Linked DNA regions of Homo sapiens: region 1 is linked to region 2. A link means that fine-mapping ties the variant in region 2 to the expression of a gene that starts in the linked region. Tissue or cell type: whole blood. Region 2 holds a variant in brackets; the other region holds the start of a gene. All regions are shown on one strand. Distances are between the middles of the regions.

Region 1 (2,681 bases), 230 kb after region 2:
AAAGGAATTGAAATCAGTATGTTGAAGAGATAGCTGCATTCCTGTGTTGTTTTCAGCATTATTCACAATAACCAAGATATAGAAGCAACTAAGTATCCATCAACTGAGGACCGGATAAAGAAAATGTGGCACATATATACAATGGAATACTATACAGTCTTAAAACAGAAGGCAATTCTGTCATTTGCAACAACATGGATGAACCTGGAGGACATGAGGCCAAGTAAAATAAGCCAGGCACAGAAGGACAAACAGCACATGATCTTACTTATATACTTGGGGTCTAAAAAAGTTGAACTCATAGAAGCAGAGTAGAATGATGGTTACCAGGGGCCTGGCAGAGGGCTGATGTGGAAGGGAGGGATGTTGGTCAAAGGATACAAAGTTTTAGTTAGGTAAGAGGAGTAAGTTTTAGTGATCTACTGCACAGCATGGTGACCATAGTTGATGATGTATTGTATATTTCCAGGAGAGTAGATTTTCACCACAAAAAATAAGTAGGTGAGGTGATGGATATGTCAATTAGCTTGATTTAATCTTTCTACAATGTATACATATATCAAAACATTACACTGTACGCTATAAATATATAAATTTGTCAATAAAAATAATTATATAAATATATATTTATATAAAACAAAATACATGCTAAGGATAATGCAATGAACTGCAAAAAGTTGTACAGGCTCCCAATAAATAATTTTTGAACGCCTAAGAGCTAAATAAATGCAATACATCACTCCCAGGTGTCTCCACTAGGGGGCCCCATTCCCTCCCGTTCCATCACCTGCTTTCCTCAAGGTCGTCTCCACCCTCCTATTTGTTGATACCCGGCCTCTGACCCAGTTCATCACTTTCCCGGGCTTCCGGGCGCCACCCTCTTCAGGTTTTCCTCCTACCCCTCCAGCCCTGCCCCTCTGGATCTCCCATCCTCCCAGCGCGCCAGACTGCATGCGGCCTCCCCGCCCTGTGTCCAAGAGGCAGCTTCCACTCCACGCGGGCAAGCCTGAGCTCCAGAGCCGTCCTCAAGCCGCCTCCCCCCGAAGCACTGGGACTTCATCCTCCCGGCTACTACTCGTGCCCAGGGACTAGGCCCTGAGCCTTCCCTTCTCGCACGCCCCATAGCCAAGCTGCTCAGCAGAACCTGACGGCTCCACCTTCAAACTACGTCCGGAATCCGACCCCTCTCCACGCCCACTGCCTCCACCCCGGCCACCTTCCTCGGTCACCCTGGCAGCTGCAATGACCAGGGTGACCTTTCTGAAAAGGGAGGCTCTGTTCGGAGCCCTCGCGGGGCTCCCCAGCACAGCGGCCTCCCATGCCCACCTGCTCGGGTGGGATTACTTTCCAACCCCGTTTCCATCCCCCTCCCTGGTCTCCAGCCGCAGCGACCCCCACGCAGAGCCCGGAAGACCTTGGGCCCCGCACATGCTGCCGGCCCGCTAAGAGCTCTGGGTACCCCCGGAGCGCCTTCCAGGCTTTCTCCTAGAGGCGCTGTGTCCCGACCGCGCTCCGGACCTGAGCCACGGCTCACCTGGGGCAGCTCGCGCCCCCGAATACAGTCTCCCACGCCCCGCCCCCCGGGGTGCCTCCCTCCCAGCTCTCTGTACCCACCCACCATCCCCCACATCCCTTCCTCCAACCGCTAGCCAGTCACCAGCCCGGGACCGCAGGGCAGAGGCCGGGCCGCGCATGCGCACCGCGGACCGGTGCCACCTCCGCTCGCGAGCCCGCGGCAGGCCCTGGGCGGTGCGCGCAGTCCCGCGAGAGCAGTGCTTGGTCGGGACCTCGAAGCCGGAGCCCGAGCGGGAGAGGCCGCGGAGACCCCGGCCCGGCGCAGGCAGAGACGCACCTGCGGGAGGCGGGCGCGCCGGCTGGAGAGGAGGCCGTGGGGCGGAGCGGCTCAGCGTTCTGCTCGGCTGCAGCGGCCCCTGCCGGAGACCCGGGCGCCGTGGTCTTCTTTATAATTGAAGGATTGTCTCTCTGTTTTTATTTGGGGTGGGGGTGGGGGTGGGGGGCGGCGCAGTGACTTGCTTCGACTTTGTCAGCTTCCAGGGTTCATTCCACTGCCCAAATATGTAGTGAGTTACTACCGGCTTTGCTTCCTCCTTCAGCAAACGGCTGGACCACACAACTTCAGGAGAGAGGATTTTAAATGTTAGGGTCATTTTCCCTAAAACGATTTCAAATGACGGTGAGTTGGTTCCCAGGCTAGGCCACCTAACCTCGAACGCAATGACGAGTGCACTCTGACTGCTGAGCTGAGAGCCTTCCGTGGCTCTGGGACCCAGTGACTCACGTGGCTCCGCATGTCCCCGTTCCCTTAAAATCGGAGTCTTTCCTTTTCTTGGATTCCGGCTTGCCACCAGCACCACTTGGCAGAATGGAATTGCTTGCGGGCATGTCAGTGGACTAGAAAGGGAAGTAAGTGGTCTGAGAACTTGGGGGCCAAAAATGTTACATTAACATTTTTTGCCTACCTAAAATCTCAGCCACTTCCCACAGTTTGGCTGGAAATTCAGCCCATGTTGAGGCCCTTCTCATTCCTGCAGGTGTTACCAGCAACTCAGAGGTTTATGGAGTAACGAAATTGGGGAGGGCCTCACATCCGGCTGCTGTTTTTCCCCCTAACGTGTATGGTGCTTATTCTGAGCCAGACACTTTTAAGAACTGCACATTAT
Region 2 (2,681 bases):
GACAGAGTCTGGCTCTGTCTTCCAGGCTGGAGTACAGTGGCACAATCTCGGCTCACTGCAAGCTCCACCTCCCGGGTTCATGCCATTCTCCTGCCTCAGGCTTCCGAGTACCTAAGACTACAAGTAGCTGGGACTACAGGCGCCTGCCACAACGCCTGGCTAATTTTTTGTATTTTTAGTAGAGACGGGGTTTCACTGTGTTAGCCAGGATGGTCTCGATCTCCTGACCTCGTGATCCGCCCGCCTCGGCCTCCCAAAGTGCTGGGATTACAGGCGTGAGCCACCGCGCCCGGCCAAGACTTCTACTTTTTCATATCCCTTTCTCCTCCCACAAGTGGTTATAAAGTATATGGCTTTAGAGTTTGTTTTACAATCAACATAAGTTCTCTTTCTACCTTTATTTTTCTTTTCCTCATCATTGCCAAACCTAATTTTTTTCTTTTTTTTTTTTTTTTTTTTTTTTTTGAGACAGAATCTCACTCTTTCATCCAGGCTGGAGTGCAGTGGCACAGTCTTGGCCTACTGCAACCCCCACCTCCCGGTTTCAAGCGATCCTCCCACCTCATCCTCCTGAGTAGCTGGGATTACAGGCATGCACCACCACACCTGGATAATTTTTCTGTATTTTTACTAGAGACGGGGTTTCACCATGTTGGCCAGGCTGGTCTCAAACTGCTGACCTCAAGTGATCCACCCACCTTGGCCTCCTAAAGTGCTGGGATTACAGGCGTGAACCACTGTGTCCAGTTGCCAAACCTAATTATGTTTAAACATGAACTCTTTTTTTAATTAAAATTTTTTAAAATTTTATTTACATTAAAATGGAGATGGGATCACTATGTTGCCCATGCTGGTTCTGAACTCCTGGGCTCAAAGATCCTCCCGCCTTGGTCTCCCAGAGTGTTAGGATTACAGGCGTGAGCCACCACACCCAGCCAGTGAACTCTTCTTAATAAAACTTTAAAATTTGGCAAAAGTTTAGTTTGAGTTTTTAAAAACTAGGAAGACAGACGAGAAAAAAGAAAACAGAGTCAGAGCTAAACAATGTTAACATTTTGGTGAGTAACCTTTTGTATTTTTTTTCTAGACATGTGTATAACATGTTGAAAAATTAAAGAATTTTGACGAAAGTGATGGGAATAGGTCTTTGGAGGTTTTTTTCCTTCTCCTTTAAATCTGTGTCTTTGGTTTTTTTGTTCATTATAGTCCCATGCTTCATCTCAGCCACACAAATTCCATTAATTAAGTACTACTTTATTCCAAGAAATACACAATTAATTACAGGAATCAATAGATTCTTCTGAAATTCTTATAGCTGGAAGCATTTAATAGAACTATTTCCCAGGCACTCAGTTTTAAGCATTTAATTAGAATTTATGTTAAATAGGAGTTACTATCCAATGTTTTTAAAAACAATACCAAGTACTGGCCAGG[C/T]GTGGTGGCTTGCGCCTGTAATCCCAGCACGTTGGGAGGCCAAGGCGGGCAGATCACCTGAGGTCGGGAGTTCGAGAACAGCCTGACCAACACGGAGAAACTTCATCTCTACTGAAAATACAAAATTAGCTGGGCATGGTGGCGCATGCCTGTAATTCCAGCTACTCCGGAGTCTGAGGCAGGAGAATGGCTTGAACCCGGGAGGTGGAGGTTGCTGTGAGCTGAGATCGCGCCATTGCACTCCAGCCTGGGCAACAAGAGCGAAACTCTGTCTCAAAAAAAAAAAAATACCAAGTACTGCATTGAATCTCTATCATTCAATTCAGTATCATTTATTGACTACCAAAGAACATATTTTTTCTACTTTGGGTCCCCCAGACTAGTTACTGAAGAGAATTGTGGAGGAAAAATGAAAGAACTGATTTTGTCTTTTAACATGAAGTTAGCCAACAGCTAGATTACTATTTATATAGTCAATGATTTGACTGCCTTATGCTGGACATAAAACAACTGAGCTTTCCTATTTAAGGAAATTATTTTTTAATAATGTACACATTATAAAATTAAAGAAATATTGTCCACCGTAGAAAATCTACATAATGCAGAGAAACATAAAGAAGAAAATAAAAATGACTATGAATTTTTGTTAAATTATAAAAACAAGAATTGCATCTGTAATTTTGAGTCTTGCCTTTTTTCACTTGATGTTGACTTGCCGGCATTGTCTATGTCATTAAATAGTCTCTGAAAACATGACTTTTGATAGCTAGGAACGACTTACAGATCAGTCAGCAAAGCCACCGGTACCTGGGGAAGCCAACTTGTATGTTTCGTGCTTGCTCTGAGTGACCGGCACGTCATAGTTTGTGGCTGTACCCTCCTCCCTGCCTCCTACCACACTGTGCTGTACTCTTCCTCCTGGATTTGGACATTCACATGAATGTGTGCATTTGCTGTGGGCTTTTGTAACTCTGAGCATGATTTTTTTTGCTTGTGTGCTTGCTTAGGGTTTGCTACTCAACAAGCAGAAATCATTGTGTCTGCATTGGTCAAGATCCTGGAGGCCAACATGGACATCGTCTACAAAGATATGGTCACCAAGATGCAGCAGGTTAGCCTTGTTGGGTGGTTTAGCAAATTAGGACTGTGAAGATGGGGTATTATTTGTAGTAATGTTTTAATATAATTTTTTGGATAATACCCCGTTGAAAAGTATATAGTAACTTTTACCATGATTAAGAGGCAAA

Evidence for each region. PIP is the estimated chance that this variant, and not a neighbour inherited with it, causes the effect.
Region 1: it holds the start of SIRT5, and the variant in region 2 is fine-mapped to the expression of SIRT5 in whole blood (INTERVAL, PIP above 0.99).

Annotation. Positions count from the first base shown.
Region 1 is chr6:13,573,478-13,576,158 of GRCh38, reverse strand. SIRT5 (sirtuin 5) reads right to left here and starts at 1,558. Exons shown (of 10, transcript NM_012241.5): 1 at 1,415-1,558. LOC105374937 (a long non-coding RNA gene) reads left to right here and starts at 1,725. Exons shown (of 2, transcript XR_926497.4): 1 at 1,725-2,194. RefSeq lists enhancers at 621-1,206, 796-1,275, 1,207-1,793 and a silencer at 1,486-2,005.
Region 2 is chr6:13,802,107-13,804,787 of GRCh38, reverse strand. It overlaps MCUR1 (mitochondrial calcium uniporter regulator 1), which reads left to right. Exons shown (of 9, transcript NM_001031713.4): 3 at 2,442-2,545. Among named protein-coding and RNA genes, the nearest start is that of MCUR1, 11 kb to the left of the region's middle. The variant C/T (reference allele first, on the strand shown) is at 1,435.